Linked DNA regions of Homo sapiens. The protein of the gene in region 1 interacts with the protein of each later gene in a biochemical or structural test. Each region holds a gene or a part of one and is shown in the gene's direction. Other genes may lie near its edges. The genes, in order: KDR, HTRA4, SHC2 and KPNA4.

Evidence for each region.
Region 2: of the proteins of KDR (region 1) and HTRA4, one has a biochemical effect on the other in vitro, tested with the Homo sapiens proteins (one study listed by IntAct).
Region 3: the proteins of KDR (region 1) and SHC2 form a complex in vitro, tested with the Homo sapiens proteins (2 studies listed by BioGRID).
Region 4: the proteins of KDR (region 1) and KPNA4 interact in a test that uses a peptide from one of them, tested with the Homo sapiens proteins (one study listed by BioGRID).

The regions. Positions count from the first base shown.
Region 1 is NC_000004.12:55,115,569-55,122,608, reverse strand, and holds part of KDR (vascular endothelial growth factor receptor 2 precursor), read left to right. Parts: intron 1-1,418; coding exon 1,419-1,512; intron 1,513-3,808; coding exon 3,809-4,005; intron 4,006-7,040. UniProt on the Homo sapiens protein: Tyrosine-protein kinase that acts as a cell-surface receptor for VEGFA, VEGFC and VEGFD. Plays an essential role in the regulation of angiogenesis, vascular development, vascular permeability, and embryonic hematopoiesis.
Region 2 is NC_000008.11:38,969,218-38,977,235, forward strand, and holds the start of HTRA4 (serine protease HTRA4 precursor), read left to right. Parts: upstream 1-5,010; 5' UTR 5,011-5,046; coding exon 5,047-5,512; intron 5,513-5,813; coding exon 5,814-5,913; intron 5,914-7,317; coding exon 7,318-7,522; intron 7,523-8,018. Other genes in the region: PLEKHA2 (pleckstrin homology domain-containing family A member 2), read left to right, coding at 204-566. UniProt on the Homo sapiens protein: Serine protease.
Region 3 is NC_000019.10:430,005-437,044, reverse strand, and holds part of SHC2 (SHC-transforming protein 2), read left to right. Parts: intron 1-361; coding exon 362-415; intron 416-613; coding exon 614-665; intron 666-753; coding exon 754-880; intron 881-2,179; coding exon 2,180-2,336; intron 2,337-6,297; coding exon 6,298-6,361; intron 6,362-7,040. UniProt on the Homo sapiens protein: Signaling adapter that couples activated growth factor receptors to signaling pathway in neurons. Involved in the signal transduction pathways of neurotrophin-activated Trk receptors in cortical neurons.
Region 4 is NC_000003.12:160,494,507-160,499,571, reverse strand, and holds the end of KPNA4 (importin subunit alpha-3), read left to right. Parts: 3' UTR 1-4,565; downstream 4,566-5,065. UniProt on the Homo sapiens protein: Functions in nuclear protein import as an adapter protein for nuclear receptor KPNB1. Binds specifically and directly to substrates containing either a simple or bipartite NLS motif.

The DNA.
Region 1 (7,040 bases):
GGTGTGTGAGAACATGTGCAGTCACTTATTCATTTTGCCTGCATTTGTTCATATTGGGATCCTCAGATTCAATGCACTGGATGTTTGCACTGGGTATTTACTTATACTCTCTCTATTTATTCCGTCTCATACTTCGTCCTATTTGTTCATACTCTCTTATTTGCCCAGCAAGGTCAATGCCAGTTTAGGCCTAGGGAGTCATTTTTTCTTAGTTGATATGACTTAGAAAGCTTGGGAGCCTGCCCAACATCAATTACTTTTTTAAAGCTGGTATTTTCTAGGTCTTGATATTTATTAAGACCCTAGCATAGTGGACAATTTTTCTTTCTCTCATGCTTTTTCAACACCTCATAGCTCTTCACATTTAGTTGACAGAGAATTCAGTTATCTTGCTGTAGAGTGACCCATGGTGAGGAATCTATGCCATGGTACTTTTCTGGTTCTTATCCCTTATAGGTAAAGACAAGTTTCTTATGTCTGAAGCTTGATGTCAGGATGAGTTCAGGGCTTTGATGAATAAGTTCAGATCTCCCAATTGTAATTCATTAGCATTGCACTTAAAAAAATTTATATACGTTTTTAAAAAAGGGTAATGCTAATGAATTACAATAGAGAGAAAAGTACATTAGTTTGCATGTATGTGTGAAACTGGGAAAATTTTTCACGAAAATATTCATATACTTTTTAAAAAAAGGGTAATGCTAATGAATTACAGTAGACAGAAAAGTATATTAATTTGCACATATGTGTAAAATTGGGAAAATTCCACACATACATAAAAGTATATTAATATGCATGTATGTGTGGAATTGGGGAATGTTTTCTCTTCCTCAGTTTCTCTCCCTTGCTTTTAATGTACAGTCTTTATGAGCCATTATTTCAGCTGTGGCAGTTTGGTTACCAGGGGAAGCGCACTAGAAAATTGATAAAGGAAAATGAGACAAGGTCATAGATTCTCTCACTCCCTTCAGGGTACGTAGATGAACTATATAAAAATCCGTCTAAGTGGGATTCGTTAATCAGCAATTTAGTCAAATGTGTACATCCTATGTTCTATAAGAAATGTCAGTGGGTCCTTTCCCAAGGGAGTGAGATCATCAGATGAAGGTTCATTTGGTTTCAATGTCCCGTATCCTTTTGTAAGACCTTGAAGTTGGCAATGCAGGAAAACAGGAACTCCACCCTAGCTCCATGAATTGCAGAACTGTTGTGTTGGTTTATGACCATCTGCCCATTCTTCCTGTTATGACACAGCTTGTGAACTTTTACTGAGAATGGTGAAAAGTAAATTCCCAGTTTTATACAATGAATTGCTGAAGAGGCCTTTTAAAGTATAGAGTATGCATTGTTTATGGAAGGTGTTTCCTATTAGGTCTAACTCAGTGGCAACTACATTCATTTATTTAATTTGTTTCTAGGTTTGCCTAGTGTTTCTCTTGATCTGCCCAGGCTCAGCATACAAAAAGACATACTTACAATTAAGGCTAATACAACTCTTCAAATTACTTGCAGGTAAGGATTCATTCTAGATCTAGATTTCTTGTGTTAAGTAACTGATTGTTTATTGAGTGGAAATAATTTCCAGTAGAGCAGAATTATAATAGAGCTTGTAGTAATTGTTCATAAGTGGTGAGGTTTCTAAGAACTGATGTAATAATGGAAAATGAGAAGAATTTTCTCTCAAAAATTCTGTACAATTTTGCTGGTGTTTTTATACTATTCTCTGCCAACATGCATACACACACACACACACACACGCACACAAATACACACCCACACCCACATTCCAATAACCAGTACAGCCACCTGGCGTATAGTAGACATACGCTCAATAAATATGAATGAATAAATGAAGTTGAGGGCATACATTTAAGGAATAGAGTTGAAAAAATTTGGGACTATATTTATTATGCTTGGTATGATTCTTGAACACTTATTATCCCTTTCCAAAAACTTTGCTTTATAAGAAATTTATTACTATAATTACTTAGGCAGTAATATTTAATAGCAATTTAATATTTAGTGGGTAATATTACTGAGCGCATGATCTACATAAATAATGGACTTCGGGCCCTGCCTTGATATTCTGGAATGCATCTTTCCCCACTTGCTAGCAAGAAGTCATGCTATTGATTTTTGATAACTGGAGAAGTAGACTTCTTTGTCAAGAAGAAGAGGCCTTTAAATTTTGCCTTTCAACCCTTACCCCAGGACGAAAGATAGAAGACCCTTGGGTTTAACATAGTGATCACACACGAAAGGCATGGAGCCTTCTTAGGACCTGTGTGTTTTTGGTAGAGACTGTGACAAGTGGAGGTGATGTTACCCTCCTGGAAGAGTGCTGGGGGTCCACAAAGGACCTTGGGTAGGTTATTGCCATTGCTTCATACTTGTTGAATACTAAGCATTAAACCGAATGACATACATCTATTTTAGACTGCAGTATAAAGAATACCCTAGCCCCTTACCAATACCCAGCCCTTGGGAAAAAACACAGTAGCAGGTGCTGTTTCTCTAGCTTTACTTGTTTAAGACACATTTCCCATTAGATTTTCCTTTTACCGACCCTCGATAACAAGGTTATTTGAAATCCCCAAGGATCCCATGCTCCCTTTTTAAAACTCTGCATAAACATTTCTTATGTTCTGAAAAAAACCATGGAGTGTGTTAAAAGTAACTTCATTGATTTAGCTGCAACTTCCTGGAAATTTTAAGTTCTTTGAATGAAGGGCCAATAATGTTACATTCTTCTTGATGTTGACTATCTTCTTATCTTCCTTGGGGCCTTGTAGAGAAATGCTGCAGTACAAGCCATCTATGTTTTAATGCGAGGTCCTTACAAGGTCCTGAGGGACTCTTACTTGCACCTCCTTCCTTCCTAACCTCACTTCTTACTCCCCTTTGCTCACTCTTACCTGGCTGCTCTGGTTTCCTGGCTGTTCCCTTAATACTCCAGATATGCACCTGCTCCAGGGCCTTTCCATGTGCTGTTTTTGCTCCTGTAATACTGCTCTTCATGATGTTCCTATGGCTAGCTTTATCAAGACCACCTCCTGCAAAATTCTTTACTCTTTTCTTTGTATCTTCTATATTTTTCTCCATAGTACTAAACACTATCTTTTATACAATAAACTTTCCTTACTTTTTAATTGCCTGTTTTCTCCAGTTAGACTGAGGTTCCATAAAGGCATTGATTTTTGTCTGATTTGTTCACTGCTCTTTCTCTAGTCCTTAACAAGTTTGGCACATAGTAGATGCTTAATAGATATTTGTTGAAAGAAAGAATGCATTAATTAATGGAAAACTCAGGAATCTTTATAAGTGACTTCTGAAGCTGAGTTTATAACTTTTCATCATATGTCAATCTGACTTGTTGGTAGAAGACTTTGTTTTTTTTTTTTTGAGGCAGGGTTGCCCTCTTGCCCAGGCTGAAGTGCAGTGGTGTGATTTTGGCTCACTGCAACCTCCACCTCCCGGGTTCAAGCAATTCTCATGCCTCAGCCTCCTGAGTAGCTGGGATTACAGGCATGCGCCACCACACCTGGCTCATTTTTGTATTTTTAGTAGAGACAGGGTTTTACCATGTTGCCCAGCCTGGTCTCGAACTCCTGGCCTCAGGTGATCCATCCGCCTTGGCCTCCCAAAGTGCTGGGATTATAGGCATGAGCCACCATGCCTGGCCGGTAGAAGACTGACTGTGTCTGTTGAAGAGTTTATTTAAGTTTCAAAACCAAATTTTCTCTTTTCTTAGAAATAGCCTCACAGTCTGGCACTTCATATTAATACCTCCCTGAAATTAATTTTTCAGGGGACAGAGGGACTTGGACTGGCTTTGGCCCAATAATCAGAGTGGCAGTGAGCAAAGGGTGGAGGTGACTGAGTGCAGCGATGGCCTCTTCTGTAAGACACTCACAATTCCAAAAGTGATCGGAAATGACACTGGAGCCTACAAGTGCTTCTACCGGGAAACTGACTTGGCCTCGGTCATTTATGTCTATGTTCAAGGTAAGTGGTGAAATAAAATTCATTTCCCACGTCTCTTTACCAGTTATAAAAGACAATAGGCTCAAAGAAGAATTGAGTACAACAAAGGGCTTGCTCTAAAGGCTGTTTGCCAAGAGGAATACACACAATTCTTCTCTCCTGAGGCTTTCTCTGAGAAATAAGACTCATTGATTCTGGAGCTTGGGCCGTGTTACCTCTTTTTTGCCCAGTTAGTTTGGGTCTGATCTTTGTTTCCAAGGTAAATCTGTGTTCACTGTTGGCCATTGAGACTTATAAAAAGTCTTCCTATGTTTGAGAAGAAAACCTAAAATTCTTGAAATCGAGGAAGATTTGGGGGTGAATTATGGAGAAATTTCTGTGGAGAGATAAGTTATCTACAGCAGAGTAGGAGATTTTCCCAAGAATGCATAGGAAAGCATTTTTTGCCAAGGGCTCTGGAGTTTTTTGCACATAGGAACCTTTTTTTCTTACTAGTATTTCATAAAAAACAATTCCCATACTCATGTGCAAATAAAGACATTGCTTCAGACTCTTTTCAGGACAATGTTTCTTTCCTTTGCTTGTTTGGTCTGAGATCTTGGATGATATGCTGTATCTTTCTAGGATGTGCAGTTTGGGATTGATATTATGAAGGCTGACTTAACATCCATATAGTATAAAATAAATGTCACACATATTCTGCATTTATAATGAGTTATGCATTCTTTTGTGTTTCAAAAATCTTACACTATCTTATCTTTTCTGTGAAAACCTAACTTAACTAATGAGATCCCTATGATATAAATTTAAGGAATGTAAGGGCTGCATCATAGTTTGGTTGGATGTACCAAATATTTTTCTTTTCAGTGAAGATAAACAGACATTTTATGTATTTACGTATATGCCTTTTTACATCCCAGAGTATTTGAGACAGGTGAAGATGACTTAGACTTTTTTCCCAGAAGCAGCTTTTACAGGGCAAGAATTTCATCAGCTTTGGGAAACACACTTGCATATCTCTGCTTACATTTCAGTAGTGTAATATGGTCAGTGCAATGAAAAAGTGGAGACCACATCAAAATAACCTATGCCACTGGATTCACAATGTTTGAGAAATATCTTTGCCCAGAGTAAGCACTGTCAAAGATAGAATTCTGTGCCCTCCTCCTTCCCTCCACAAGATTTGAAAGAGACAAGGCTCACATCTTGGAGAATTTCTGGCTCCTTTTGACCTGGCAGTCTTGAGAGATGCAGCTCGGTCAGAAGATTGCAAGGATTTCCTGCTTTCAGCCTGTCTAGAAATACTACAAGATGAACATCCCCCATATCTCATTATTTACTTCTTCCTAAGTCAGGAAACTTGGAGACATGTGAAAATTCATTTCATGAGTTTCAGTAAATATTTTATTTTGAGAGGCTGGGTGGTGGTTTGGGTTTCTTTTGTTTATTTCCTTTTTTTGAGATACCGAAATAGAATTGATTTACTAAATAGGTTTAGTCTTACGTCAAAGGGTTAATTTAGCTTCCAAAGGCTTGCTCTGTAAGCAAGTTATGTAATATTTCATAACATGTGGATGAAAGGTAGGCAATATTAAGAAGTGGCAATCCCTAGCACTGTTTATTGGTACACTGCCTGTCTTTGGGTATACCATTAAATTCTGCTTCCTGTCTAAGCTTAAAGTTCTAGGAGTTGGGCTGTCCAAGATTTTGGCCATGAAGTTAAACAATGGGAAAGGAAACACTGAAGTATTCTCTATGGATAGGTGTTTAATGTCCCCTCTGGTCGCCACCTTACTTCCCTAGTCTTCTGACCCCATTCTCTTCAGCAATGGATGGAGCCAGGAAGTGAGCCCTGGCCTCATAAGATAATGGCTATGGCATGTGGTGGGCTAGATTGGCTGCTTTTCTGTGCTTTCCAGCTGGGAAGGAAATCAAACTTCTGCTGTTGCAGGGAATTAGCTGCCTTTGTCCCCTGTGGTTTAATTAACTCTTTCTTCACTTTGACTGACTATTATGAAGCACTCTGAGAATGCTTGATGGGATGTGTTGGGCATAGCAATGTGAAATGTTATCTCTCTGAGATTTCAAGCATGACTCCACACCACATCATCTCTATCTCTGAGGAATGGACTAGGTTTCCAGCAGCATGTTAACATTGTATGAGTAATGTTTGATTGGCCTTGAAATCTTTTTTTTTTTTTTTTTTTGAGACGGAGTTTTGCTCTTGTTGCCCAGGCTAAAGTGCAGTGGTGCTATCTCAGCTCACTGCAACTTCTGCCCCCCGGTTCAAATGATTCTCCTGCCTCAGCCTCTGAAATAGCTGGGACTACAGGTGCGTGCCATCATGCCTGGCTAATTTTTTGTATTTTTCGTAGAGATGGGGTTTTGCCACGTTGGTCAGGCTGGTCTCAAACTCCTGACCTCAAGTGATCCACCTGCCTCAGCCTCCCAAAGTGCTGGGATTACAGGCGTGAGCCAAGAACCCAGTCAGAATCTCTTCAGTTTTCTTCTCAGTCTTTGGAGTGGTGACTTTTCAAATGTTTGTCATTGAAGATATCAATGACTGCTAAATGTTAAACTAAATGCAAAAACAATTAAACATGGTTTTAGAAAGAATCATATCCCTAGTCTTCAGAATCTTAAAATGCTCACATGAATGGTCCTCTTGAATAACCAAATTCAAAAGTGTTAGCTGTTTCCTGTTAATCTAAAGATCCTTTGGGATCCATTCATTTATTTTCATGGAATTTACATTATTTACCTAAAGAGAGAGCACATGAGTATTTTAAATATTAGTAAAACTTGTCGGTAAAGTGTATAGATTTAACTTTAAATTTTAAAGTAAATATTATCCTTCATTTTGAAAAAATTATAATGATTAATCTTTTAAAATGTGAAATCTATAAAAATATATTCTGCTTGTCAATAAACCTTGTGAAAGGAGTCAATCTCAATTGGGAGTTTTTTTTCAAAATTTTTATACACACAGATATATACACATGCATGTGCATGCACAAACACACACACACACATACACACACACCCTCATGTAGCAC
Region 2 (8,018 bases), on another chromosome or scaffold:
ATATGTCCTGCAAGTTTCACTGCCAGGCTGACGTTGACACATTTGGAGTGAATCCTTTTGACTGTATTTCATTTTTGTAGGCAAGCATCCTTGGACTTATGAGGTGGTGATCCTGGTTGGGTACTCTTTCTGGGACTCTGTGATAAACATTGTCTGAAAAGCCCTAACTTTCTTTTGTCTTTTTCTTCCTTTTATTTTTATAGGAAACGTCCTTTTCTAGATCCATTTCTTTGACCCGACCTGGAAGCTCCAGCCTTTCAAGTGGGCCCAACTCTATCCTGTGCAGGGGGCGGCCACCTTTGGAGGAAAAGAAAGCCCTCTGCAAAGCCCCCTCTGTGGCCTCCTCCTGGCAGCCCTGGACACCTGTCCCCCAGGCTGGGGAGAAGCTGCTTCCACCTGGAGACACTTCAGAGGACTCCTTGTTCACGCCTCGTCCTGGGGAGGGCAGCGCTCCTGGGGTGCTGCCCAGCTCCCGGATAAGGCACAGATCGGAGCCCCAGCACCCCAAGGAGAAGCCGTTTATGTTCAACCTTGATGATGAAAACATACGGACCTCTGATGTGTGATGGAGCACAGTGCCATGGGAGGGAGGGAGGGAGGGAGGACTTGAGAGAAGGAGGCTGTGACTCAGTTTCTCTACCTTGTTGGAGGGTAGTCAGAGGCCTTTATGTCACTCATATTCCTGTGGATGCTCTTTGGGAGGGAGGGGCCCATCCAGCTGGGCTGTGTGTGTGTGTGTGTGTGTGTGTGTGTGTGTGTGTAATATCAACGCAGTGTATTTAATTTGGGGAAGTCACTAGGTTAGAACTGTAGGCATACTCAGTGGAGAGGAAGCTACCTATTCTATTCTAACTATTCTGAGGTCTTCCTGGAGAGGGATTGTTTTAGCAGCTCCTCTCCAGAGGGGGCTGGAAGTCCAGTTTCACCAATGACCAAGTTTTATTTCCTTGTCCTTGTTTTAGTTTTTTCATTTTGTTTTCAGTCCAGGTGCCTCGCAGCTCTTTTGGAATGGGCCAGCATTAGTCTAATTTTAAGCGCTATGTGTTTTGTACCCTTGCAAACTTGCTTTCTCTTTCTTCTTGCTGTTGCCCTTTGAATGAAGCCTTGTGTGCTTGCATGATCAGACCCTGTAATAGGATGAATTTCCATGCACTTAACATGAAGAGATACAAAAAGAATCTAGAGAGAGATATATATTTTTAATGAAATAGAAGCTTGGCATAGAAACATTGATTTAGATGTTATGAGTTGCTGGCCAGAGATTCCTCAGATAAAAGAGCCTAGAAAATTGAGTTTTGAGCGGGCATGGTGGCTCACGCCTGTAATGCCAGTAGTTTGGGAGGCTGAGGCGGGTGGATCACCTGAGGTCAGGAGTTCGAGATCAGCCTGGCCAACATGGTGAAACCCCGCCTCTACTAAAAAATATGCAAAATTAGCCGGGCGTGGTGGTGCAGGCCTGTAATCCCAGCTACTCAGAGGCTGAGGCAGGAGATTCACTTGAACCCAGGAGGTGGAGGTTGCAGTGAGCCAAGATCGCGCCATTGCACTCCAGTCAGGGCAACAAGAGTGAAACTCCGTCTCAAAATATAAAAGAAAATTGAGTGTCCCACCCAAATTTTAGGGCGTACCTCCTTCCATTTGATAAGAAGATGCTATTTCCAGTGTCCCTGGGAGAATTCTTCCATCCAGTTTATATGGTGAATTGCCACCAGCGTTCCCTAAAGGAAGAGAGAACTTAGCTTATTTCTGTCTGTGACTTTTATCAGCTAGATCAGTTAATTGTATTTTTAAATTAAAAATTAGTAACTAGAGGAAGAGACTAAGAGAACTATTTTTACCTGAGTAAATGCTCTCCTCTTCTTGTGTCCAAATCTAATGCAGAGGTGAAAACACTTGATGAGAAAATCCTTTGTGGCTTGAGGGGAATCATGTTTCTTTCAGGACGTGTTGTTTCCCTGAAGTCTATGTCACACTGAGAACTTTTTCTGACTGCACTGCTTTGGAGCTATTCATTTAAATTGAGTTTGGCCTAGTTTTCCTGGTATAAAACAGGAAATCTACATTGTTCCCTCTTTCTCTCCCTTCCATCCCTTCCCCTGCCTTTCCTATACACGCTGGTGTGCTTTTGCCCTCAGAAATTCTTGGTTTGGGAGTTATGTATTTTTGAGTGATCGAGGTTATGACATACTTGGAGCGGCATGATTTCAAGAAGCCATTCCAAATTCTTATAGCTCCTTAGCTCTGGTTTTACTCTCGTATTTTCCCCAAGAAAATTTTTTGGCTATTCAAAGAAAGCACAAAATATGTGATGTGGAACTCATGAAAATAGGGACTTTTGATATCTCTTTAAATATTCCCTGACTCACGGAAAAGATGTCCTCTTTTGGTGTATACATTGTGAAAATCTACCCATTTATCTCTCTCTCTCTCTTTTCTTTTAAATAAATTATCTGATAAGGCCGGCAAGGTGGCTCACGCCTGTAATCCCAGCACTTTGGGAGGCCGAGGCGAGCGGATCACGAGGTCAGGAGATCGAGACCGCGGTGAAACCCCGTCTCTACTAAAAATACGAAAAAAAAATTAGCCGGGCGCAGTGGCAGGCGCCTGTAGTCCCAGCTACTTGGGAGGCTGCGGCAGGAGAATGGTGTGAACCTGGGAGGCGGAGCTTGCAGTGAGCCAAGATCGCGCCACTGCACTCCAGCCTGGGCGACAGAGCAAGACTCCATCTCAAAAAAAAAATTATCTGATAGGTTACTATTGCTAAATTAATTGGCCATTATAATAAGCTGATTTGTTTCTTATTCAGCAAGATCTCTTTTGAGAATGTGACAAATTAAACATACATAGAATCCATATGGTATTATCCTGATAAAGGGAAACGAGGACACTAAGACTGTCAAATGGAAATCTTCTTGTCAATTGGCAAACACTTGGGAATTCCACATTAGAGCATTGCTTGTTTTTAATTTTTTTTTTTTAATTTTTAAAAGACAGGGTCTCACTCTCTTACCCAGGCTAGAGTGCAGTGGTGTGATCATAGTTCATCATAACTTTGAATCTCTGGGCTTAAGCAATCCTCCCATGTTAGCTTCCCAAGTAGCTAGGACTACAGGGTTGTGCTACCACGCCTGGCTAATTTTTAATTTTTTTTTATCTACAGAGCCTGGCTATGTTGCCCAGGCTCTCTCAAACTCCTGGCCCAAGTGATCCTCCTGCCTTGGCCTCCTAAAGTGTTGGGATTACAGGTGTGAGCCACTGCACCTAGCCAGAACATCGTTAATGTAGTTCAATATGAGATAAATTATTATCTTCAATGAAACAAGCTCTAAAAGCATTCCATTCCTAAATTGTATTTCAAACTTCCTATTTTGTTGATATTTCTTAACTTCTGGCCAGTTTTGGACCATAATCTTTTAATGTGAACCAAAGATGGTACGTATTTGACCAAAGCAGTTAGTTTTAAATGTATAAAATTGAACCAAATGGAAAAAATAGGTTGGGGATGCAGTATAGATTAGTGACTAAGTGCATAGGCTCTGGAGTAAATCTGAGTTTTTTTTTTTTTAAAGGAACTAAAAAATGTACTGCATTTTCTTTGTGGAATAAAAGCCTTGCCTGAGTTGTGCTATTTTCATAAGGCTTTTGAAGTGGTCTTGACCCACTGTGTGTAACAGTATTTCAGGTGGTCCTCCCCATGGCTGAATAATGCCATCCATTATTCTTTAATTTTTATTTTTAGAAACAGTGTTTCACTCTGTCACCCAGGCTGGAGTGCAGTGGCCTGATCATGGCTCACTGCAGCCTGGACCTCCTGGGCTCAAGTGATCTTCCTGCCTCACAGCCTCCCAAAGTACTCAGATTATAGGTGTGAGCCACCACGCCTGGCCACCATCTATTACTTTTGAAATCTTCAAAAGACTTGCTTACTCAATGTCAGCTGATGGTTGGTAAAAATAATTTGGCCTTTAGTGTTAAGTGAGACATCATAAGGGTATTGAGGTATACATTATGGAGATTGATGTCAGGTCAGAATATTGGAGTTATACATCTATTTCTGAGTTGAATACTCAGCTCCCACGAGAAAGAAAGTAGTTTTAAGGTCCAGCTTCTTAGTCTACTTGAAGCAAATTTTTTTTCTTTTATATTTCTGAATATAAATATACTCTTATATGGGCTAAAAAGACCCCATGAATAAATAGCAGGTTCAGTAGTTGAGGAGTGGAGTTTAGTAGGTTTGTTTTCAGTATAAATTAGATAACATGTGGAGGTCACAGCATTTTGGAAATTGAGTGTCCCCAAGTGAGCTTTGTTTATAAACTTTCAAAATGTCGGAAGTGGACAGGTTTGTTAAATCTTGTCTGCCAGCACCCTTTTCTTCCTTTGTTCCTTTTCCTCTCTGTGTTATTGCCTGCGGCAGCCAGTCCTTCATACTAGATAGAGTTCAGATAAAGCAAACGTTTGGCAAAAACATACTGTTTGACCTCCTCCCCCTCTGCTTATGAAGGGGTAGCATGATTCTGTGTTTTAAAGCAGTGATGTTTCAGCTGTGAAATGCACTCGCTGTAAGCTCTAGGCTGAGTGCATGGAAACTGTTACGCTTCTCATTTTATGTGATCTCCTAATTGGTATGTAGCAAAAATTTTCTAAAACTGTTTTGTGGCTTGTTTTGTAATAAAACCATGTGAAATACTGAAATATGGTCATGTGTTTTCCTAATACTGACCTTCTGACCATGGGTGGGTGAGCTTTCTTATCAGTCTGCCCTCATTGTCGGTTTTAGGGATTTCAGGAGGTAGGTTCCTGCTCCGGGTAGGGCTAGAGACCTTCCCCTCATTGCCTGGGGGAGAACCTGGCTCCGGGGCGCCGACGGGGGCGGGTGGTAGGGGATGTACGGGTGTGTATATGCAGAGGTATGCCAGGCTCTGCCCCTTAAAGTTTGGGGGCCGGCGGAGGCGGCGCCGTGGCCGGGAGAAAGTGTCTCTCATTTAGGAGGGTTTGCAGGTCCAGAGTAAAGTCACTGAAGAGTGGAAGCGAGGAAGGAACAGGATGATTAGACCTCAGCTGCGGACCGCGGGGCTGGGACGATGCCTCCTGCCGGGGCTGCTGCTGCTCCTGGTGCCCGTCCTCTGGGCCGGGGCTGAAAAGCTACATACCCAGCCCTCCTGCCCCGCGGTCTGCCAGCCCACGCGCTGCCCCGCGCTGCCCACCTGCGCGCTGGGGACCACGCCGGTGTTCGACCTGTGCCGCTGTTGCCGCGTCTGCCCCGCGGCCGAGCGTGAAGTCTGCGGCGGGGCGCAGGGCCAACCGTGCGCCCCGGGGCTGCAGTGCCTCCAGCCGCTGCGCCCCGGGTTCCCCAGCACCTGCGGTTGCCCGACGCTGGGAGGGGCCGTGTGCGGCAGCGACAGGCGCACCTACCCCAGCATGTGCGCGCTCCGGGCCGAAAACCGCGCCGCGCGCCGCCTGGGCAAGGTCCCGGCCGTGCCTGTGCAGTGGGGGAACTGCGGGGATACAGGTGAGCCGCGGGGGCGCGCGCCCTCGGAACACTTTCTAACTCTGGAGGAGCGTAAAGGAACAAGACCTCACTGAGACCGCACAGTTCGCGCCTGGTCCTCCTGCGTCATTTGCCTCCTGGATTCGACACCTCTGTGTTCCTGATTTCCTTTCCTCCTTAACAGGGGCTCTTTACCGGCTGCTACGTGGTTTCTCCCTCCCCATGCACCTTTTGAACACTGTCTTGCCTTTAACATTTTTCCAACTAGGATAGCAGGTCTGGTTCCCTCGAGGCGTACTCTTGAGCCAGTATTTTTTCATAGGGACCAGAAGCGCAGGCCCGCTCAGGAGGAATTACAACTTCATCGCCGCGGTGGTGGAGAAGGTGGCGCCATCGGTGGTTCACGTGCAGCTGTGGGGCAGGTAAAGGAGGAGGAGGAAGACCTCCACTGTCCCAGCTAATGGTTTCTGCGTGCCTACCTGCTCCAGACCCTTCGCAAGCGTCATTTAATCCTAAAAAACCAGTGAGGAAACTGAGACGTAAAGAGGTTGAATAACCTGTTCAAGGTCATTTAACCAAAGAGCAGAGGCACAAGGATGCTGACTTCTAAATCCCAGCTCCCCCTGCCCACTTAGGTGGCTGGTGCTTTTTCCCCCTCCTGCCACAGACAAAATTTAAGGTCAGATATAAGAGCTAGTAGGCAATTTCTTTTCTTTTTTTGAGACAAGGTCTTGCTCTGTCGCCAGGGCTGAAATGCAGTGACAGATCACGGCTCACTGCAGCTCCATCTGCTGGGCTCAAGTAATCCTCCCAACCCAGCCTCTGGAGTAACTGGGACTATAGGCAGGTGCCACCATACCCAGCTAATATTTGTATTTTTTTGTAGAGACGAGGTCTTGTTATATTGCTCAGGCTGGTCTCGAACTCCTGGGCCCAAACGATCTGCCACCTTAGCCTCCCGACGTGCTGGGATTACGGGTGTAGCCACCACATCCAGCTTAGTAGGCATTTTGGTTGTGATCTTGCTCAGCCCCCACTTTGGATACAAGGAAATCCAGACCCAGAGAGCAGGGTTAATTTGTCCTATGTTACTATGTTACGAGGCCAGTTGGCGGTGGAAACTAAGCCAGAATCAGAGCCCTTTGATTCTCTCCTGCCTGGGTCCTTGATACTGTGGTAAGAGGCTGACTTTTGCCTCTAGTATTAGGATTGGGTTCAGTCTTTTCGCAGCAGAGAACCCATGGGCTGCTACACTAACCAGCTCTGAAGAAGCAGTGTCCCTGGAAAAGGAGAGCTGGACCCCACTCTCAACCATGCTCACAAGAGATGGCTGGGGCCCTGTACCTGCCAAGTCCACTGATACATGGAGAAAATTTACGCATAGCCAGGGAAAAGTGAAATGTCTGAGAAAACTGAAGGAAGGCTGGGTACGGTGGCTCATGCCTGTAATCCCAGCACTTTGGGAGGCCGAGGCGGGTGGATCACCTGAGGTCAGGCGTTCGAGAGCAGCCTGGCCAACATGGTGAAACCCCATCTCCACTAAAAATACAAAAATTAGCCAGGCGTGGTGGTGCATGCCTGTTATCCCAGCTACTTGGGAGGCTGAGGCAGGAGCCTGGGAGGTGGTTGCAGTGAGCCGAGATTGCGCCACTGCACTCCAGCTTGGGCAACAGAGCGAGATTCTGTCTCAAAAAAGAAAAAAGAAAAGAAAAGAAAACTATGATGGAGGTATGTTTAATAAGAGTGAGGTTCCCATGACTCAGATTATATGGCTGTATCCCCTAACTTTCTTGCCCTCTGTTTACACTATTGTCTTGTGGAGACAGGTTACTTCACGGCAGCAGGCTTGTTCCTGTGTACAGTGGCTCTGGGTTCATAGTGTCTGAGGACGGGCTCATTATTACCAATGCCCATGTTGTCAGGAACCAGCAGTGGATTGAGGTGGTGCTCCAGAATGGGGCCCGTTATGAAGCTGTTGTCAAGGATATTGACCTTAAATTGGATCTTGCGGTGATTAAGATTGAATCAAATGTGAGTATTTCAGGGCTGAGTCAGAGTCTACATATTTGGGGATTTTTATCTATTTGCTGATATTTTCTGCCCCACTACACTCTCACACCACATCTTTTCTGTTGAATATATGCTTTTCTCTGGTTTCTTTCTGTTCTTTACTCCCTCTTTTATTTATTTGCTTCAACGCCTTTCTGTATATCCCTAACCGTTTCTTTCTTTTCTTTCTTTTTTTTTGAAACAGTCTCCCTCTGTCACCCAGGCTGGAGTACAGTGGCTCAATCTCAGCTCACTGCAACCTCTGCCTCCTGGGTTCAAGTGATTCTCCTGCCTCAGCTTCCTGAGTACCTGGGATTACAGGTGCCTGCCACCACGCCTGGCTAATTTTTGTACTTTTAGTAGAGACTGGGTTTTACCATGTTGGCCAGGCTGGTCTCGAACTCCTGACCTCAAGTGATCCGCCCGCTTCGGCCTCCCAAAGTGCTGGGATTACAGGTGTGAGCCACTGCGCTTGGCC
Region 3 (7,040 bases), on another chromosome or scaffold:
GTGTGTGTGTGTGCATGTGTGTGGGGCTTGGGGTGTGTGTGTGTGAGCGTCTGGGCAGGTACATGTGTGAAGTGTTACAGTGGGGGAGGTTTGTCCTCTCACACACATTCCCGTGTGACCTCCTGCGGACCCCACACATCCCTTAGGGCCCTAGTCCCTTCCTTGCTGGGGACTCCACATCCCAGCCTCGGTCGTCCAGGCTGACCCAGGACCCGGCTGCAGTGGGTGCCTGTCCAGGAGACGTCTCCATCCCCACATCCCTGCCCCTGCCCCACTCTTCGCTGTGGTCCTGGTCCATCTGCCGGGCCCCCTGCCCTCGAAGCGGGGCCCCCATGACCGCGTGTGCCTCCTGCCGCCACAGGTCATCGCCAACCACCACATGCCGTCCATCTCCTTCGCGTCAGGCGGAGACACGGTGAGGCCAGGGATGGGGGTGGACCTGCAGCCCTGCCGCCCCCCTCCGGCCGCGAGACCCTCTCATCCTTCCCCAGAGCCCGCCTAACGTACCCTGTGCCCACATCCACTGCCCCATCTCTCTGCATTGCTGGGGTGGGCAGCTGGGAATCCCGGTGGGGGGCCCAGGCAGGTCCAGCTGGCCCCTCCCCGCCCCCAGGACATGACGGATTACGTGGCCTACGTCGCCAAGGACCCCATCAACCAGAGAGGTGAGGCCCCCGGGGAGGCCGGTGGGGGTCCTGTGGCTGGGGGGCACGGCCGTGTGGCTCGGAGGCTGCATGACCAACGTGCCCGCAGCCTGCCACATCCTGGAGTGCTGTGAGGGCCTGGCACAGAGCATCATCAGCACCGTGGGCCAAGCTTTCGAGCTGCGCTTCAAGCAGTACCTGCACAGCCCGCCCAAGGTGGCGCTGCCCCCAGAAAGGTAACCAGAGCTGCCTCCCCCGTGCCCTGGGGACACCCCCAGTGACCTGCCCAGGTGCAGAGCCTGCTCCACCTCCTGCAGGCCTCAGCCTCCGTCCTGCCCTTGTCCCTCCCTCCCTGTCCCGTGAGAATATGGCTCAGCCAGAGGATCCTGTTTCCTCGGCTGTTAACACCCGAGTAAACGCATCCCCGCCTGCCCCCCAGGATTGGGGAGGACTAAGCAAGCTGACTCCCCGGTGTGCCTGAGGCTGTCAGCCCTGCTGCTACAACCAATATCCCTCCTCCAGACGCGCGGCCGGCTCCCGCAATGGGCAGAAAACGGCCTCCGTCTCACCGCAGAACATGTGTAAAGGGGGGGACGTGTCTGTGTGCTGGTAACACGTTTTTTATAGACATTGAAGTGTGAATGCCACGTGTTGCAAAATATGATTCTCTAGATGTTTTCTCAAACACTTAACTTTGATAATTTAAAGATTGAAAGCCCATTCTTAGCTCGTGGGCCACACAGATCTAGGCGGTGAGCTGGATTTGGCCCTGGGCTGGGGTTTGCCAGCTGGCCTTGGAGAAGGAGCTATTTAAGTCTCTATTCATCATTAGAAAGTCAGCTTCCTCCAATGGTGGGAGGGCAGGTGCAGGTGCATGAGCTCCCAGCCTGCTGGTCACGAGGGAGGCGGCATCGCACGCCTGCTCACACTCACCCCTTTGTGCACGGGGACAGCGTGCTTGATGCACGTTGCTCAGCACGCTCCGAAGCTGAGACGGGCTCCTCGCCTGCCTCCAGAGCTGCCTCTGCCTTCCGTAGGCTGCTTCATAATTTATCCCAGCAGCGACTGTGGGCCAGGTGGGGTGCACCCCTCTGGCTCTCGGGGCCGTGCTTGCTGAGGAGCACCTGCAGGATCAATTCCTGCCAGTGCCATCGGGGCCAGAGGGCGGGGGCGCTTTGATCCCAGAGAGTTGCCACCCTGACCGGTGATGTCCTGGTTCTGGGTATAAACTTGGCTCATGCCCTCTGCTGCCGGGCGGGGCCGGAGGTGGGCAGAAAGGAGTGGAGACTGGGTTTGCCAACGACCTGCCTTTTGTGCTACAGCTCGGAAATGTGTGCAACATTCCATTTTATAGATGAGGAAGTAGTGGGCCTGGTCACTGGCTCTAGAAGCGTTTCCCGGTAGGAACCCTCAGTGACAGGTGGGGGGCTGGGATTCGAACTCAGATATTTCCTGCTCCCCCAGAAGCTCAAGCCGTAAGGCTTTAGCCCCCTTGGGCCCTGCCTGTGCCATGGCCGTTGTTGTCTGTCCCCCAGGCTGGCAGGGCCGGAGGAGTCGGCCTGGGGGGACGAGGAGGACTCTTTGGAGCACAATTACTACAACAGCATCCCGGGGAAGGAGCCGCCGCTGGGCGGGCTAGTGGACTCCAGGCTGGCCCTGACACAGCCCTGCGCCCTCACGGCCCTCGACCAGGTCAGCCTCTGCCCTCGGGGGGATGGGGACAGGGATGCCCCAGCTGCTGGTTCCCTGGACCTACCTCCAGCTCTTCTTTCTGCTCCTGTTCTCCTCGATCCTAGAGGAGGGTCTCTCACTCAGACTCACTCACTCACTCACTCATGATTTCACTTACTCACAGACTCACAATCTCACTCACAATCTCACAGGCTCACGATCTCACTCATGATTTCACTCACTCACAGACTCACGATCTCACTCACTTGCTCACTATCTCACAGACTCATGATCTCACTCAGTCTCACTCACTATCTCACTCACAGACTCACGATCTCACTCAGACTCATCATCTCACTCACGATCTCATGATCTCACTCACTCATGATCTCACTCACAGACTCATGATCTCAGTCACGATCTCACTCACTCATGATCTCACTCACTCATGATCTCACTCATGATCTCACTCACTCATGATCTCACTCAGGATCTCACTCACTCACTCAATCACAGGCTCACAATGGGGCGCCGTGTATCTGCCCGGCCTCCTCTATCTCTCACTCACTATCTCACTCACGATGAAGCGCCATCTGCCCGGCCTCCTCTAACTCTCACTCACGATCTCACTCACGATGAAGCGCCATCTATCTGCCCGGCCTCCTCTAACTCTCACTCACGATCTCACTCACGATGAAGCGCCATCTATCTGCCCGGCCTCCTCTATCTCTCACTCACGATCTCACTCACGATGAAGCGCCATCTATCTGCCCGGCCTCCTCTATCTCTCACTCACGATCTCACTCACGATGAAGCGCCATCTATCTGCCCCGCCTCCTCTATCTCTCACTCACGATCTCACTCACGATGAAGCGCCATCTATCTGCCCCGCCTCCTCTAACTCTCACTCACGATCTCACTCACGATGAAGCGCCATCTATCTGCCCGGCCTCCTCTAACTCTCACTCACGATCTCACTCACGATGAAGCGCCATCTATCTGCCCGGCCTCCTCTAACTCTCACTCACGATCTCACTCACGATGAAGCGCCATCTATCTGCCCGGCCTCCTCTATCTCTCACTCACTATCTCACTCACGATGAAGCGCCATCTATCTGCCCGGCCTCCTCTATCTCTCACTCACTATCTCACTCACGATGAAGCGCCATCTGCCCGGCCTCCTCTAACTCTCACTCACGATCTCACTCACGATGAAGCGCCATCTATCTGCCCGGCCTCCTCTATCTCTCACTCACGATCTCACTCACGATGAAGCGCCATCTGCCCGGCCTCCTCTAACTCTCACTCACGATCTCACTCACGATGAAGCGCCATCTATCTGCCCGGCCTCCTCTAACTCTCACTCACGATCTCACTCACGATGAAGCGCCATCTATCTGCCCCGCCTCCTCTATCTCTCACTCACGATCTCACTCACGATGAAGCGCCATCTATCTGCCCGGCCTCCTCTAACTCTCACTCACGATCTCACTCACGATGAAGCGCCATCTATCTGCCCTGCCTCCTCTATCTCTCACTCACGATCTCACTCACGATGAAGCGCCATCTATCTGCCCGGCCTCCTCTATCTCTCACTCACGATCTCACTCACGATGAAGCGCCATCTATCTGCCCCGCCTCCTCTATCTCTCACTCACGATCTCACTCACGATGAAGCGCCATCTATCTGCCTGGCCTCCTCTATCTCTCACTCACGATCTCACTCACGATGAAGCGCCATCTATCTGCCCGGCCTCCTCTATCTCTCACTCACGATCTCACTCACGATGAAGCGCCATCTGCCCGGCCTCCTCTAACTCTCACTCACGATCTCACTCACGATGAAGCGCCATCTATCTGCCCGGCCTCCTCTAACTCTCACTCACGATCTCACTCACGATGAAGCGCCATCTATCTGCCCGGCCTCCTCTATCTCTCACTCACGATCTCACTCACGATGAAGCGCCATCTATCTGCCCGGCCTCCTCTATCTCTCACTCACGATCTCACTCACGATGAAGCGCCATCTATCTGCCCGGCCTCCTCTATCTCTCACTCACGATCTCACTCACGATGAAGCGCCATCTATCTGCCCGGCCTCCTCTATCTCTCACTCACGATCTCACTCACGATGAAGCGCCATCTATCTGCCCGGCCTCCTCTATCTCTCACTCACGATCTCACTCACGATGAAGCGCCATCTATCTGCCCGGCCTCCTCTATCTCTCACTCACGATCTCACTCACGATGAAGCGCCATCTATCTGCCCGGCCTCCTCTATCTCTCACTCACGATCTCACTCACGATGAAGCGCCATCTATCTGCCCGGCCTCCTCTAACTCTCACTCACGATCTCACTCACGATGAAGCGCCATCTATCTGCCCCGCCTCCTCTATCTCTCACTCACGATCTCACTCACGATGAAGCGCCATCTATCTGCCCGGCCTCCTCTAACTCTCACTCACGATCTCACTCACGATGAAGCGCCATCTATCTGCCCGGCCTCCTCTAACTCTCACTCACGATCTCACTCACGATGAAGCGCCATGTATCTGCCCGGCCTCCTCTATCTCTCACTCACGATCTCACTCACGATGAAGCGCCATCTATCTGCCCGGCCTCCTCTATCTCTCACTCACGATCTCACTCACGATGAAGCGCCATCTATCTGCCCGGCCTCCTCTATCTCTCACTCACGATCTCACTCACGATGAAGCGCCATCTATCTGCCCCGCCTCCTCTATCTCTCACTCACGATCTCACTCACGATGAAGCGCCATCTATCTGCCTGGCCTCCTCTATCTCTCACTCACGATCTCACTCACGATGAAGCGCCATCTGCCCGGCCTCCTCTAACTCTCACTCACGATCTCACTCACGATGAAGCGCCATCTATCTGCCCGGCCTCCTCTAACTCTCACTCACGATCTCACTCACGATGAAGCGCCATCTATCTGCCCGGCCTCCTCTAACTCTCACTCACGATCTCACTCACGATGAAGCGCTATCTATCTGCCCGGCCTCCTCTATCTCTCACTCACGATCTCACTCACGATGAAGCGCCATCTATCTGCCCCGCCTCCTCTATCTCTCACTCACGATCTCACTCACGATGAAGCGCCATCTATCTGCCCGGCCTCCTCTATCTCTCACTCACGATCTCACTCACGATGAAGCGCCATCTGCCCGGCCTCCTCTATCTCTCACTCACGATCTCACTCACGATGAAGCGCCATCTGCCCGGCCTCCTCTATCTCTCACTCACGATCTCACTCACGATGAAGCGCCATCTGCCCGGCCTCCTCTAACTCTCACTCACGATCTCACTCACGATGAAGTGCCATCTATCTGCCTGGCCTCCTCTATCTCTCACTCACGATCTCACTCACGATGAAGCGCCATCTATCTGCCCGGCCTCCTCTAACTCTCACTCACGATCTCACTCACGATGAAGCGCCATCTATCTGCCCGGCCTCCTCTGGACACATTAGACGAGGTGGCATTTCAGACATGACTTCTACCCTCAGACACTAAATAAATACGGCAATGATTTAATCAGGGCCTTGGTAAGTCCACCAGAGAGGCAGTGAGGATGTCCATGGGGACATACACTCTGTAGGGCGGTCCGGAGGCCTTCCCTGAGGAAGCGGCATTTGGGTAGAGCCCTGACTGGTGAATAGGAGCTGCCTGGGAGAGCAGAGCGGGGAAGGTTATCCAGGCAGGGGGAACAGCCATTGCAAGGTGGCAGGATGTGCTGACCACCTTCCGAGGTGGAGAGAAGGCGGGGAAGGCCACGGCAGAGGTGGGCGGCAGACCCAGGGGGCCTAGTTACAGAGTGAGAGAGCAATGGGAGGGCCAGGGCTGTGCTCCCCACCCCTAAGTCTCCAGCCATCTAAGAGGGCCGGGCGGGGAGACTGGGGGTCCAGAGCCAGGAAGAGGGGCTTGCACACACCGGGGAACCTCTCACTGCTCTGTTTCCAGGGCCCATCTCCTTCTCTAAGAGATGCCTGCAGCCTGCCATGGGACGTGGGGTCCACCGGTACAGGTAGGATGGGCTGGGGCTGCAAGGGGTACCCACGAGGATTCTGGGGCTCCTCAGCCCTGTCCTGTGCTGGCTCCCCCTCAGTCTTTCTCCTCTCTGCTTATTTCACATTAATCTATGAGATCGTCTTGCTCCTAACACTCTGCTGAGATTTTCATCATCAGTGTCTGTTTTTCCTGCACACACTAGATTCCTTGCATGTTGGGTATAAGTACTACATTATCCACACGGTATTAGGTTTCCGTGCATGTTGGGTATAGGTACTGTGTCATCCACATGGTATTAGGTGTCCATGCATGTTGGATATAGGTACTGCGTCTTCCACACGGTATTAGGTCTCTGTGCATGTTGAGATATAGGTGCCGCGTCATCCACACGGTATTAGGTTTCTGTGCACGTTGGGGTATAGGTACTGCGTCATCCACACGGTATTAGGTTTCCGTGCACGTTGGATATACATACTGCGTCATCCACACGGTATTAGGTTTCTGTGCACGTTGGGGTATAGGTACTGCGTCATCCACACGGTATCAGGTTTCCGTGCATGTTGGGATATAGGTACTGCGTCATCCACACGGTATTAGGTTTCCGTGCACGTTGGGATATAGGTACTGCGTCATCCACACGGTATTAGGTTTCCGTGCACGTTGGGGTATAGGTACTGCGTCATCCACACGGTGTT
Region 4 (5,065 bases), on another chromosome or scaffold:
TGGGAAGGGCTTTTCTGTCTCTGAAATTGATTCAGTACAGTTGACAGTTCATCACGGTTACCTGGTTAAACACTTTTTTTTTTTTTTTAATTCTCCAGTGATCTAGGAAATTGTTTCATTTTTAACACAGGCTTATTTCTGATGGGGATGGGGGCATAGAATAATATGCCTAATAAGCTAAACGTTCTTAACGTTTCATGTCTTAAACTGTCTTTTTGAACATTGAGACCACCTCAAGTGCTGTAAAAATAAGAATGTTATATTAGGGGTGTGTGAGACGCCCTAGTCTAAAATCTATCTTTAAATATATTTCCTTTGTAATTTTCAAAGACTTCAGTAATTGTGTGTTATGGTGGAAATAATACTTTCCATTGGTCCACATTGCTCTGGACCAAACCTGGAGCATTTCTATAATTAGAGCTATCTATGAATCATTAAAAATGGATCTAGAATAATTTTGGGGAGAGGGAGTGTATCATTTAGTTTAGGCTTACCTCAGCAGCACTTCATAGGGTGAGGAGTTGTTTGTTTCTTTAAAGGTATAACTGCATTGTAAAATGACTGGGTTTATTGTAACAGTAATTTATGGGGGCACCCTTTTTGGATTCTCCATTGCCTCAGTTTCCTCAAGGAAAAAGTTACAGAGATTAAGCTAAATTTTGAATTTAGAGAATAACTGCTGTGTAATTTTGGTATAATTACCATAAATTTAGTGTCTTAAAACACAACATACATTATTTCACAATTTCTGTAGGTCAAGAGTGTAGTTAGGTTTTCTGCTCAGGGTCTCACAAGGCTGCAATAAAGGTGTCAGCCAGAGCTGCAGTCTTATCTGAAGCTAGGGGGTCCTCTTTTATGCACATATGGCAAAATCCATTGCCTAGCAACTGAAGAAATCATGGGAACTTCTTCAAGGCCAGCAAGAGAATCTCTGATCTCAGGGAAGGCCTTAAGCGCTTTTTTAAAGGTCTCACCTGATTAGATCAGGCCACCTACCCACCAGGGTGATCTCCCTTTTGATTAACCCAAAGCCAAACTGATGAGGTACCTTCATTACCCCTGCAAAATCCCTTCACCTTTGCCCTGCATTGTAGTCCAATCACAGGGGTGATACGCATCATATTCAAAGATCCTGTTCACAGTCAAGGGAGGGGGTTATATGGAGTATGTATACCAGGGAATCTTGGGAGCCATCTTAAGAGTTCTTCCTATGACAAGGACTCAACTATTTAGAACTGGAACAATTTACAAGTGATAGCCTTATATAGTTATCATAGCAAGCTTATTTGGGGATCAAGGTTGCCTCTGAGAACCTAATGAAAACTGGACCAGCTTCCCCAAAAAGTGTATATACATGGTAGTTTTTCATACAGTTTTAGGGGATTCATAAGAGTCCATGAATTACAGTCTGTCCCAACCCTTCCCTTTAGATGATGAGTTGTTGAGGTGACTTGCCCAAGGTCACACAGCTACTAAGGGCCAAATAAAGCCCACATCTCAACTCCCATACTGCCCAGGGCTTCTAATTACTATTCTAAAGGTAATCTAAATTCATTTAAATTTGTGAACCAATGCAAAAAAATGTGAATGTAGCTTTTTGGATATTTTTTTTGTTTACTAAGGAATGGGTAACATTGTTATAGAAGCTTGCCTAAGAGTTTTGAAATTAGTTGACCTTTTTGAGTTTCCAAAATTGAATCTTCCATTGTAGCTATTAAAGTGAACTATAAATAGGCCAACTTTAATTGTTAACTCCTCGGGTTTGGTGGATTATCTACCATTTATATATAAAATTTCAGTTAGAATCCACCATTGGCGTTTTGAAGGCCAAGATAGCTGAGTATCTTATCCTTTTTGTAACTTCTTGATTATTTTACTTATTGGCAAAATTCATTAACTGTCAGCCAATAATTTAATATTATGGGAGGAAAAAATTTTGCCCAGATATCTGAGGCAATACTCCCAAACACTAACAAACTGATGCCTAACAAACTTGACATTTTGAACACTTAAAGTTTTCCCTAAACTTTTTAATAAGCACATTAATAAAGTATGCTTTTAAATATATATGTACAATAATTTTTAAAAGTTGCTGCAAGATGCCTTCAAATCAATATGCACGTTGGTGGCATTAGTGCAGTCTTCTATTTTTATTTTTTTGAGACACAGTCTCGCTCTGTGGCCCAGGCTGGAGTGTAGTGGCGCAATCTCGGCTCACTGCAACCTCTGCCTCAAGGGTTCAAGCAATTCTGCCTCAGCCTCCTGAGTAGCTGGGATTACAGGAGTACGCTACCACGCCTGGCTAATTTTTGTATTTTTAGTAGAAATGGGGTTTCACCGTATTGGCCAGGCTGGTATTGGAATCCTGACCGCAAATGATCTGCCCACCTCGGCTTCCCAAAGTGCTGGGATTACAGGCGTGAGCCACTGCGCCCAACCAGCCTTAATTCTTAATAAAGGAAGTTGAAAAATAATGAACATTGGTAAAACTATTCTAGTGTGATCAGAAGCAAATTTGGACTGTAGTGTCAAATTGATAAAAAACTAAGCACACCAATCATGTATAAGAAAAGTAGATTTAACATTTTTTTCCCTAAACACTTAACCCAGAAGTTAACAATAATCTTGAAAATTCCTTTTAAATCCAGGCCCTTTAGGTGATGGCAGTTTGACTCAGGATGTCCAAGTCCAGTGTATTTTCAATAAAATTGACTTGACAGCTACTGCTCTGGGTGTAAGAGCAGTTGACTGTGAGGAAAAGTAAATGGTTCTACAGATTCTTTATGATCTACCTCCCACCAGAGGACTGCAGTACTCCCTTGTTATTTATATTTTCTGCCCCAATTTTTGCCTTCTCCACAAATTTTATACCTTTTGTAGCTGCCTACTCCAGATTACTTCACCTTTCCAGACTATCAGTTCTTCCACTTTTATTCTTCATAAAGAAAATTCCAATAACCTGTTTCACTTAGGTTTTTCTATTACTCTTCAAGCATGAATCCTAATTTCCCTGACTATATCTTACCTCTGATCTCCATAACTGATGGATTCCTATCCTAGACTATGTTACTCTAATATTACCCAAGATTTTCTCCAGCCTGTTTTTACTCTTACTTTGAAACAGCTGTTTAAAATGACTCGTAATCTGCTTAAATCTACATGCTTTTTGTGGTTCTCAATCCAGTTACCTACCTTCCAGATAATTCCCTCACTGTCCTGTCCTCTCCATTCCTCTGATGTTTAAGCCCTGTGAGCCACCTTTCCCCCATCCTTTGTGCATAGTTACCATTTTACTCTTTCTTGTTGCCCAGGCAGGAATGCAGTGGTGCCATCTTGGCTCACTGCAACCTCCACCTCCTAGGTTCAAGCGATTCTCCTGCCTCAGCCTCCTGAGTAGCTGGGACCACAAGCGTGCACCACCACGCCCGGCTAATTTTTGTATTTTTAGTAGAGATGGGGTTTCACCACGTTGGCCAGGCTGGTCTCGAACTCCTGACCTCAGATGATCCACCCTCCTTGGCCTCCCAAAGTGCTGGGATTGCAGGCGTGAGCCACCGCCTGGCCACCATTTTACTCTTTTTAGGTACAGTAATCTAATATCCAAAGTCTTGGACTCAGCTAAAGAGGGTATTTACCTTAAAAAAAAAAAAAAAAAGACTCCATCTTTTGATTCATAATTGTGGTGGGGGCGGGGAATCAAGACAACCTTAGTCACTTTGGTATTACCATAATTCTTGTCTTTTCAGGGTTGTCCTGTTCAGCTGCATAAAACATCATGTATTCTAGGTATTTCCTACCTTCACTTACATTTTTACTTGCCGATGTGCTGCCTTCATAAATGGGTATATTCCGCCACACATCTAGTAAGCCCCCAATGCAGTACACAATGTGTATCACTGATAAAACTCGCACTTCTGCCATGTCAGTATTATATTCAGTTGAGTGGTCTTTAGCATAGTGGCAGTCCTAGTCATCCTAACCTTTTAGTTAAGGTAAAATTACATATGTTTATAGAACTCATATAGACAAGCTAGTTTTTAAAATCTTCCTTTTAACCAGTTTAGGATGATCTAGGATAGCTAAGTTACCTACATGGTGACTGTTCGGTCTAATTCAGAAACAGAAGTACTAAAAGAATACTAAAAAGTTTTTACCCATTATCTCTATCCCTGTTTTCTTTTTGCAATTCTCAGCTGCAGGGAGCAAGAAAATACACAGCAGATAGGAAATGTTTGTTTGCATCCTGGCTTTCTCAACCGCACTTTACGTCCTTGAATATTCTAGATATTTACTCCTTCAAGAAGTCAGGAGTATATCCAGGCCTACCTATCATCCTTGCCATCCCCATTAACCCTCATTTTTCAGTATGTGTTTTACATTTATGGTTATTTTTCAGTCTATAGTATCTGTTCACTCATTGCTCTATCACATCTGAGTTTCTCCGTCTTTCTTTCCACTAGATTGTAAGCTCCTTAAGGGCAAGGTCGGCATATAAGCAAAGTTCTGTAAACACCGTGAAGGTACCATGAGTTCTATGGGTACTCAATAAATGCTTGTGATAATGATGCAATTTCTCAGATGAACTGATTGTAGTGACTACCTCTAAAAGCCTTCAATCTACAGTTTTTAAATTTGTCTCATTGCATCTGAGTTTTAGAAAGCCTTCGATAGAAAGGGAAGATACTTCATAGCTTGCCAGATGAATGCCCATTTCCTTATTTCCTTTTCCTCACTTTTGATATTTTGCCCAGTGTCTGGTCTGGATATCTGACATCCATAAGGGTATTGAAATGGATCCTTGTGTGGTTTTCAGATACCAGTTATATATATTATGAAGCAGAGGTAACCTAATATTGTCTAACACTATTGATACAGTTTATATTTTGGAAATACTGTATGGATGATTTATTGAAATAACTTATAATAAGATATTTTACAAGGAAATATCCAAACCACAAAGTTAAGTGATTGCTGTTTTGGTCAGTCAGCTATAGTATGAAATTATTAGAATGCTTTGGTTTATTTATGTATGTGAAGTTATTTTATCCCTATGTGCTTCAGTTTC